2 linked regions of the Homo sapiens genome follow. The protein of the gene in region 1 interacts with the protein of each later gene in a biochemical or structural test. Each region holds a gene or a part of one and is shown on either strand. Other genes may lie near its edges.

Evidence for each region. Proteins that work in one complex are often made in the same cells at the same time.
Region 2: the proteins of ACAD10 (region 1) and PEX5 interact in a test that uses a peptide from one of them, tested with the Homo sapiens proteins (one study listed by BioGRID).

Annotation. Positions count from the first base shown.
Region 1 is NC_000012.12:111,743,939-111,749,275, forward strand, and holds part of ACAD10 (acyl-CoA dehydrogenase family member 10), read left to right. Parts: intron 1-704; coding exon 705-1,105; intron 1,106-2,205; coding exon 2,206-2,346; intron 2,347-3,110; coding exon 3,111-3,248; intron 3,249-3,356; coding exon 3,357-3,447; intron 3,448-4,378; coding exon 4,379-4,537; intron 4,538-5,234; coding exon 5,235-5,337.
Region 2 is NC_000012.12:7,195,091-7,200,207, reverse strand, and holds part of PEX5 (peroxisomal biogenesis factor 5), read right to left. Parts: intron 1,198-5,117; coding exon 1,095-1,197; intron 1-1,094.

The DNA of each region.
Region 1 (5,337 bases):
GGTTTCTCCATGTTGGCCAGCCTGGTCTTGAACTCCCGACCTCAAGTGATCCGCCCACCTCAGCCTCCCAAAGTGCTGAGATTACAGGTGTGAGCCACCGCACCTGGCCACCTTAATTTTTTTTAATGGGGAAAAATATGTTTGTAAAAAAAGTCTTGATGCACATTTTACAAGAAGAAAGAGACGCTGTGAGAGCCAAATAGTGAGCTGAGTGATGCTGGTGTTGATTCCCTCCAGAGACAGTGGTGTCTAGAAGTTGGCTCTTCCTTTAGTCAGTTGTGGCATTGCTGTTATCAATTTTGTAGCAAGGGTGGTCTAGGATGCAGGACTTCTTATAGCCCACTGGCAACGGCAGAGGTGATCTGGGGTGTTACTGATTAAATGTAGTCTTTTAGGAAAGCAGAGATCAAGAGCAGGGAGCAGGCAGACCTAAGTTGGACTCTGGCCCCCAGCCCCCTAACTTCCAGCTCGTCCAAGTCACCTCCTTCTCTAAGACTCAGTTTTCTTGCGTGCAAAGTGCAGGTGAAAGCAGTTGTATTGCTTTGGGGATTCAGTGAGCTATAGTGGCTCTTAGCACAGTGTTTGGTACTTAGCAAGTGCTCAGCAAATGGCAATAGCTGCTGAAGTGACAGTGTCATCACATGTTAACATCCCTATGATGGGTCGTGTGGGAGTAATCACTGTTTTTCTTTGATTCTGCTTAGGGCAAGCAAGCTCCACATATGCGGAACAAACTGGAAAGCTGACCGAATTTGTGTCTAACCTGGCGTGGGATTTCGCAGTCAAAGAAGGGTTCCGGGTTTTCAAAGAGATGCCCTTCACAAATCCGTTAACAAGGTCCTACCACACGTGGGCCAGGCCCCAGTCCCAGTGGTGCCCCACAGGCAGCAGGAGTTATAGCTCCGTTCCAGAAGCTTCCCCAGCTCATACCTCAAGGGGAGGTCTGGTTATCTCTCCAGAGAGCCTCTCTCCACCTGTCAGAGAGCTGTATCACCGGCTGAAGCACTTCATGGAGCAACGTGTGTACCCTGCAGAGCCAGAGCTGCAGAGTCACCAGGCCTCAGCAGCCAGGTGGAGCCCCTCCCCACTGATCGAAGACCTCAAGGTAAAGCAGCCATGGTGAGGTGGTAAGACCCCAATACCATGGCATACCCTCCCCGACCCCACCGGGCTCACCTGAACCATCCCAGGCAGTGAAGATACAGGAGCTCCGAGTTGAATGATCTTTGCTTCCATCGTCTCAGAAAGAGCCAGCTCTTCATGACTCAGTTTCCATCTCTTGCTCTTGCTGTGCCTGTGTCACAGGCAGATGGCTCAGGTGTGACTGCACAGCCCAGGCAGTGGAATGCTTGGCCTTAGAAAGCCAGGGCAGGTTAGGCCTATCTGATGGGTATTTGAATTATGTAAATTTGAAACAGTGCTGTATCAGCTAATAAATCTCTCTCTAGAGAACCCGTAATATCACAGCTAGAGGGCCAGATCCACTGTGAGCTGAGTTTCTGTGTTGTCTCCCAGTGCTGTCACTTCAGCTGATAAACAGAAACACCCGCTGTTCCTTATCACGTGAACCTTGGATTGTGTTAGTTTTGAAATTACTTGAGATCTTCAGGAGCATAATGCAATCATCATCTACTTTTCTTTTTTTCTCTTTTTTTTTGAGACGGAGTCTTGCTCTGTGCAACTTCCGCCTCCCAGGTTCAAGCGATTCTCCTGCCTCAGCCTCCCGAGTAACTGGGATTATAGGCACGTGCCACCATGCCCAGCTAATTTTTGTATTTTTAATGGAGATGGAGTTTCACCATGTTGTTCAGGCTGGTCTTGAACTCCTGACTTTGTGATCCGCCCGCCTCGGCCTCCCAAAGTGCTGGGATTACAGGCGTGAGCCACCATCTCTCTCTTTTTTTTTTTTTTTTTTTTTTTTGAGACAGGGTCTCGCTTTGTCACCCAGGGTGGAATGCAGTGGTGTGGTCATAGCTCACTGCAGTCTCAACCTCCTGGGCTCATGTGATCCTCCCACTTCAGCCTCCTGTGTAGCTGGGACCACAGGCACAGCCACCATGCCCAGCTCCTCATATCATTTTTTTGGGCACACGTGCATGTTTGGTTGTCTGCCTTGTTTCCTCCAATCCCTTTCATTGTTTTCCACGGTTCAAAATAAAATGAAATCTTCCACTGTGGTTTCCTGACTTATTTTCCCCATGATAGGAGAAAGCCAAAGCTGAAGGACTTTGGAACCTTTTCCTACCCTTAGAGGCTGATCCCGAGAAAAAATACGGAGCAGGACTGACCAATGTGGAATATGCACATCTGTGTGAGCTCATGGGCACGTCCCTGTATGCCCCCGAGGTACCTTCTTTAAAGTTTTCCTCAGTGTGTGGGAACATCCTGATCTTCATAAGAACTCAATCCTAAACAGATAAACCAGATTCAGAAGCACTGGCATGAACTTGAACTTTTTTTTTTTTTTGAGATGGAGTCTCGCTCTGTCACCCAGGCTGGAGTGTAGTGGCGAAATCTTGGCGCACTGCAACCCCTGCCTCCTGGGTTCAAGTGGTTCTCCTGCCTCAGCTTCCCAAGTAGCTGGGACTACAGGCATGTGCCACCACACCTGGCTAATTTTTGTATTTTTAGTAGATACAGGGTTTTACCATGTTGGCCAGACTGGTCTCAAACTCCTGACCTCAGGTGATCCACCTACCCTGGCCCCACAAAGTGCTGGGATTACAGGCGTGAGCCACCATGCCCATCCAATTTGAAGCTTGAAATATTAATGTGAGAAGGCCAGGCATGGTGGCTCACACCTGTAATCCCGGTACTTTTGGAGGCCGAAGTGTGGGGGATCACTTGAGGCCAGGAGTTCGACACCAGCGTGTGCAACATAGAACTCTGTATGTACAAAAAAATAAAAAATTAATCGGGTGTGATGGTGCATACCTGTAGTCTCAGCTGCTTGGGAAGCTGAGGCATGGGAGGATGGCTTGAGCTGAGGAAGTCGAGGCTGCAGTGAGCCATGATCGTGCCACGATACTCCAGCCTGGGTGACAGAGCTTGACTCTGTTTTTTTTAGAAGAGGACATGACAGTCATGGTCACGCTCCTTTTCCTTCTCAGGTATGTAACTGCTCTGCGCCTGACACGGGCAACATGGAGCTGCTGGTGAGGTATGGCACCGAAGCGCAGAAGGCTCGCTGGCTGATTCCTCTGCTGGAGGGGAAAGCCCGCTCCTGTTTTGCTATGACCGAGCCCCAGGTACGTCGCCTGGGCTGCCACCCACTTGCCTGGCCCTGTTGTTGTCGGCCCCACAGGGAACACGGGCTGTCTGCTGGCGTCTCTGACTGGAATATGCTCCCCACTCAGGTTGCCTCTTCAGATGCCACCAACATTGAGGCTTCCATCAGAGAGGAGGACAGCTTCTATGTCATAAACGGTCACAAATGGTGGATCACAGGTATTTGGCCTAAAATGCACTTTCCAAATGCACATCAGGGAGTCTGTGCTGTTAGGCGCGTCTCTCAATGCCTGGGAGGAGCCTCTGCTTTTTCAAGTTGACACAAAGGAGATTCTGTCACTTAGCGCCCCCAGCAGAGGCAGCTGGGAGAATAGGAGGGTAATCCGTGGAGCACACTGTTCTCAGAGGTGGCACTTCACAGGGCAGGGACGTCCCCCGGTGCCCACACATGGACGGATGCCTCCCTGCACATGTGACCCCAGGAATCTCTCCACTTCCTGCTGTTCATTCTGCTTTGGGCAGCTCCCCTTCCTTGGTGGCTTCCTGGCTCCTCGATCAGGTGTGTTACATCCTAAGGGCTAATGACAATCCTGACTTTTAGGGATTGTCCAGTGTTACTTTTGCAGGGCCCCTACAAGTAGCCGTGGAGCTTACCTCCCGGAGCCCATACCTCCCTGGACATTAAGAATGAGCATCCCCATTTTGCAAAGGAGGAAACCGCACTCAGACTTAGGTCCCTTGCCTGGGGTATGAGCCCCCAGCCAGCAAGTAGAGAACCCAGAGTCAAAGGTTCACCTGATTCCAAGGCCCGGGCCCAGAGCCGTTATGTGTGCACCACCTGTGGGAGCCGAGCCAGCTGGCAGGGATCAAGTAGCGGTTTTCATCCTCTTGTCTCTAAATTATATTTTCTACTCTATGTGATGCTTTTAAAAACTTGCTCTTATGATGTTGGATTCATTCCTCACTGGGACAAAACCCAATTTGCTCTTATTTCTGGTCAGCAGTCTGCAGATGCTCATCTGATTACATGGAGCCTTAAAGAGCTCTGTCTGCTTCCTTACTGTGCCTTTCTTGGGCCAGGACCACGTGTGTAGAGATTTGATGGCCCTGGTGTCAGATGATGGGGTCTGTCTCTCTCCTTTCCTGGCAGGCATCCTGGATCCTCGTTGCCAACTCTGTGTGTTTATGGGAAAAACAGACCCACATGCACCAAGACACCGGCAGCAGTCTGTGCTCTTGGTTCCCATGGATACCCCAGGGATAAAAATCATCCGGCCTCTGACGGTGTATGGACTGGAAGATGCACCAGGTGAGACCTCCAGGGGCGGGTCACCCCTGGGTGTGGGTCTGGTCCCCAGGAAACACCACTGAGGGGCCCCTGCTCTTGTTCAGGACTTGCCACATCCCACGTCTGAGGGTATGATGACATTTGGAGTCACATGCTCCTGCATTTCATTTCCATACATGAATATCAACCATGCAGGCGGATTTCAGACAGGCATTTATGGATTTTTTTCCCTCTTCTAAACTTAGAAAGTAATCAGGAGTCTGTGACACAGGAAGCCATACAGGGCAGACGCAGGAAGTGGACCCCAAACCTACTCTTCCAGGCCCCAGTGTGAACAGCTGACCTCTAGGCCACAGCCCTGGTTTGGTCCGCTCCCAGTTTGGTTCTCTGCTAATAGTGTTCACATTTTTACTTTCAGTGTTTTCATAGGATCACTACATTGTCACAAACCACTAGGAGCTTCAGCTTAAGGTGGCATTATTATGTTTTTATAAAAGGAATCACAGAATAGTCATTTGCCATTATAAATCAGTGATTCATTTTCTGTGTTTAACAGGCTGTTTCCTGCCGTCCTTTTCCCTTTAACCATGTCCCAGTAAGAAGGCTAAATAAAGGGCAGGGACATTGCCAGCAGATAACCCAGACTGAGGTGAGGAATAAACACATCCAAGGAAAATGACTATGGCTATTGCTCACAGTGATCGTTTGGGTCTTTCAGGTGGCCATGGTGAAGTCCGATTTGAGCACGTGCGTGTGCCCAAAGAGAACATGGTCCTGGGCCCTGGCCGAGGCTTTGAGATCGCCCAGGGCAGACTGGGCCC
Region 2 (5,117 bases), about 100 Mb from region 1:
TGGGAGGTGAGGAGCGTCTCTGCCCGGCCGCCCCGTCTGAGAAGTGAGGAGACCCTCTGCCCGGCAGCCGCCCCGTCTGGGAAGTGAGGAGCGTCTCCGCCCGGCAGCCACCCCGTCCGGGAGGGAGGTGGGGGTCAGCCCCCCGCCCGGCCAGCCGCCCCGTCCGGGAGGGAGGTGCGGGTCAGCCCCCCGCCTGGCCAGCCGCCCCGTCCGGGAGGGAGGCGGGGGGTCAGCCCCCCGCCCGGCCAGCCGCCCCGTCCAGGAGGGAGGTGGGGGTCAGCCCCCCGCCCGGCCAGCCGCCCCGTCCGGGAGGGAGGTGGGGGTCAGCCCCCTGCCCGGCCAGCCGCCCCGTCCGGGAGGGAGGTGGGGGTCAGCCCCCCGCCCGGCCAGCCGCCCCGTCCAGAAGGTGAGGGGCGCCTCTGCCCGGCCGCCCCTACTGGGAAGTGAGGAGCCCCTCTGCCTGGCCACCACCCCGTCTGGGAGGTGTACCCAATAGCTCATTGAGAACGGGCCATGATGACAATGGCGGTTTTGTGGAATAGAAAAGGGGGAAAGGTGGGGAAAAGATTGAGAAATCCGATGGTTGCTGTGTCTGTGTAGAAAGAAGTAGACATGGGAGACTTTTCATTTTGTTCTGTACTAAGAAAAATTCTTCTGCCTTGGGATCCTGTTGATCTATGACCTTACCCCCAACCCTGTGCTCTCTGAAACATGTGCTGTGTTCACTCAGGGTTAAATGGATTAAGGGCGGTGCAAGATGTGCTTTGTTAAACAGATGCTTGAAGGCAGCATGCTCTTTAAGAGTCATCACCACTCCCTAATCTCAAGTACCCAGGGACACAAACACTGCGGAAGGCCGCAGGGTCCTCTGCCTAGGAAAACCAGAGACCTTTGTTCACTTGCTTATGTGCTGACCTTCCCTCCACTATTGTCCTATGACCCTGCCAAATCCCCCTCTGCAAGAAACACCCAAGAATGATAAAAAAAAAAAAAAAAAAGAATAAAGTAAGTTGGTTCGAGAACGTGGATGGAGGAGGCTGGGAAAACTGTCCATACTCCTTTCACGGGATTCGGAAAGAGGTATCTGAACTCACCAGCGATCGGTGGCTGTTCCCTCAGGTTCTCCCAGCCACAGCTTCTCCTCTGATTGCTCCAAATATTCCTCAGCCCAGCGGGCAGGGGACACAGACAAGGGGTCTGCAAGGAGCAGAGAAGTGGGGAAATCACACAGGTTCATTCAGTGTGGGATCAAGGAAAGGGAAAGAGATGCCCATATTCAACTGACCCTCTTAGCCACACCAAAGCAGACAAAACTCTGCTGACTCCCTCAGAAACCCCTGGTCAAAAGAATATAGTACTAAATTTTCAACATCCTCAATATCCAACCCATTCTCAAGGAGCCTGGGGCAGAAATTTACTGAGAGTTGGGAACGGGAGATCAAATAAGGAATCTCAGGAAAGGATTAAGAACCAAACTCTTTTTCTTGAAGTGCAAGATATTTCAATAAGAAATAGGAAGCGGAAGGGCTTTCACTTTCCTCAGAAGTACAGCAGGGAGCCAGTAAGGAGTGAAGGGAGCACAGAAGGGCTCCTGTTCCTTAACCAAGGCACTGGTCTGTTCTCCCTCTACCCAGAGTTCACACAATCCCGGCCAAAGGAGCCTTATTTCATTGTAATTTGCCTACCAAGAGAATCAGAGAAGTGGAATGCTAGGCTAGAATTAAAGACACATAGGTCTGCTCTTCCCTATGGATGTTTGGTGGGTTTTTTCATTTTTTAATTGAAATGTAATATACAAATATGAAACCATATAATGTCTACCAAACTTAAGTGTACAGCTAAATTAACTTCCACATTTGATACACTCACATAACCACCACCCGGATCAAGATACAGAACGTTTACAGTTCCCTCACAGGCTCCCTCAGTCTCCCAGCCCCCAGAAGTAAACACTATTCTGACTTTTCTCACTTTTGATTATCTTTGAGTAGCTATGTTTTTTCAGTCTAATTTTAGAAACTGTCTCAGAAGCTCTAGTGACAAAGGGGACTGCTGCAACATCAGAATTAACCTATCAAGGCAACAAACTCAATGAGGGTGCTGAACTGTTTTTCATCCTCCAGGACTTTGCCCTTTACTATCCTGTGGCCAGAAAAAAAAAACAAGGAGACTGACTGCGGGCACTAAAGAACACAAGGAAACAAAGAGAAGGCACAAGCCTACGGTGTTCTTTCCTTCTGCCCTGTGTCCAGAACTAATCTTACTAGTTAGTCTGCCACCACCTTCCCCTGCTATTCCCCACTCCTGGCCCATGACAAGGACAGTTCCCAAGGGGGAACTCCACTCTCTTGTTGAGAACCTACTAACTCCAATTTGCATTAAAGAGGGACATTTGGGCAGGGGTGTGAAAATATTAGCTGATACTAGCAGTCTTTGTCCCCAGTTTCAAGATCTGACCACCCTTGCTTTTACTACCCCTTCGGTATTAAAGTACAAAAACTTCTACTCCATTTTAACTGAAACTTTGCCTGAATAATGTCAACAAAGTAGTCTCAAAATCTGAGCATGAAATGTCAAAATGTGAAAAACAAAGATCAAGACTCTCAGAATACACCTAATTATAAATAATAAGTAATTACTACTTATTATATTATATATAACATATATAATTACATTATATATAACATATAATTATTACATTATATATAACATATATAATTATTATATTATATATAACATATATAATTATTACATTATATATAACATAATTACATTGTATATGACATATAATTACATTGTATATGACATATATATAATTATTACATTGTATATGACATATATAATTATTACATTGTATATGACATATATAATTATTACATTGTATATGACATATGATTACATTATATATGACATATATAATTATTACATTATATATGACATATATAATTATTACATATGACATATAATTATTACATATGACATATATAATTACATTATATATGACATATATAATTACATTATATATGACATATATAATTACATTATATATGACATATATAATTATTACATTATATATGACATATATTATTACATTATATGACATATATAATTACATTATATGTGACATATATAATTACATTATATGTGACATATATAATTACATTATATGTGACATATATAATTACATTATATGTGACATATATAATTATTACATTATATGTGACATATATAATTATTACATTATATGTGACATATAATTATTACATTATATGTGACATATAATTATTACATTATATGTGACATATATAATTATTACATTATATGTGACATATATAATTATTACATTATATGTGACATATATAATTATTACATTATATGTGACATATATAATTATTACATTATGTGACATATATAATTATTACATTATATGTGACATATATAATTATTACATTATATGTGACATATATAATTATTACATTATATGTGACATATATAATTATTACATTATATGTGACATATATAATTATTACATTATATGTGACATATATAATTATTACATTATATGTGACATATATAATTATTACATTATATGTGACATATATAATTATTACATTATGTGACATATATAATTATTACATTATATGTGACATATATAATTATTACATTATATGTGACATATATAATTATTACATTATATGTGACATATATAATTATTACATTATATATGATGTAATTATTACATTATATATGACACATAATTATTACATTATATATGGCACATATAATTATTACATTATATATGACACATATATGTATGACACATAATTATTACATTATATATGTCATATATAATTAAATTATATATGACATATATAAATTATGACATATATAATTAAATTATATATGACATATAATTAAATTATATATGACATATATAAATTATGACATATATAATTAAATATGACATATAATTAAATTATATATGACATATATAATTATTACATAACATATATTACATTATATATAATATATAATGTAATAAATACATTATATGTAACATATGTAATAAGAAATACATTATATATAACATAATGTAATAAGAAATACGTTATAACATAAGAAATACATTATATATACATTATATATAATGTAAAATGTATATATAATATATATAATATATAATGTATAATGTAATAAGAAATATGGTTGGCAATTTTTTTTGACCATAGATCCATCTGTTAATTTCAAGGACTCTCAAAAATTAAATACAGATTCTGCTCACTAGCTCTTACAGGAAGCATTTCTCTTCCATTTGCCCCAATTAGACTGTTGCCTCAAGTGTGGAGACGGAAAGGAGATGCTTAATACTCAAAGAGACTTTAAGATCTCCTAGTTCCTTAGTTCCATTCTTAGTTGAAATTCTTAGCTCCATTCTGTTGAAAAATAACTACTACCTCCTCAACTCTCCAAACACTTCTAACTCTCAACTAGAGTATTTTGCAAAAGCATATTCTGGCCATAAGTGCTCCTCAAATTCACAGAAAACATTTCAAATTCCTATGAAATGGTCCTCTCAAGGACAAAAAAAAAAAAACAGAAAAAACACAAAGCACCTTTGAATTTTTACAACAGACATGAGGACTTAACAATAGATATGAGGCAGTTTAAGAAAAAAAATCCCAGAGCTGAGAAAAACTATCCTCAAATACCTATAATTTGGTAGTTGGCCAGATTAAATCGCCACAAGACCCAGAATTTCTTGGCATTGGGAACCTACTCCAACAAGAGTCAAATAACCGAAAGAATCAAAAGAGTAACACACTGCCTTCACAATCTTTGAGAAATTCCTACAGAAAATCAGATCCATGTGGATACATCTGAGATCAAGGCAACTAAGGTCTACAGAGGGGATGCACTGCCTGAGGTCATACAGATTAGTAGAGTGAGAATAACCTAGACACCAAATACCCCACTCAAAATGTGCACCTCATATAATTTCTCGTTGTTTACTCATTCCTTCTAGGCACATCTTCCCCAAGCTCAAAAGTCAAAAACTCAGAACTTGCTACTCTTACTCATGAAAGTTTCTGTGTCTGCTAAATAGCAGCACTGTGGAG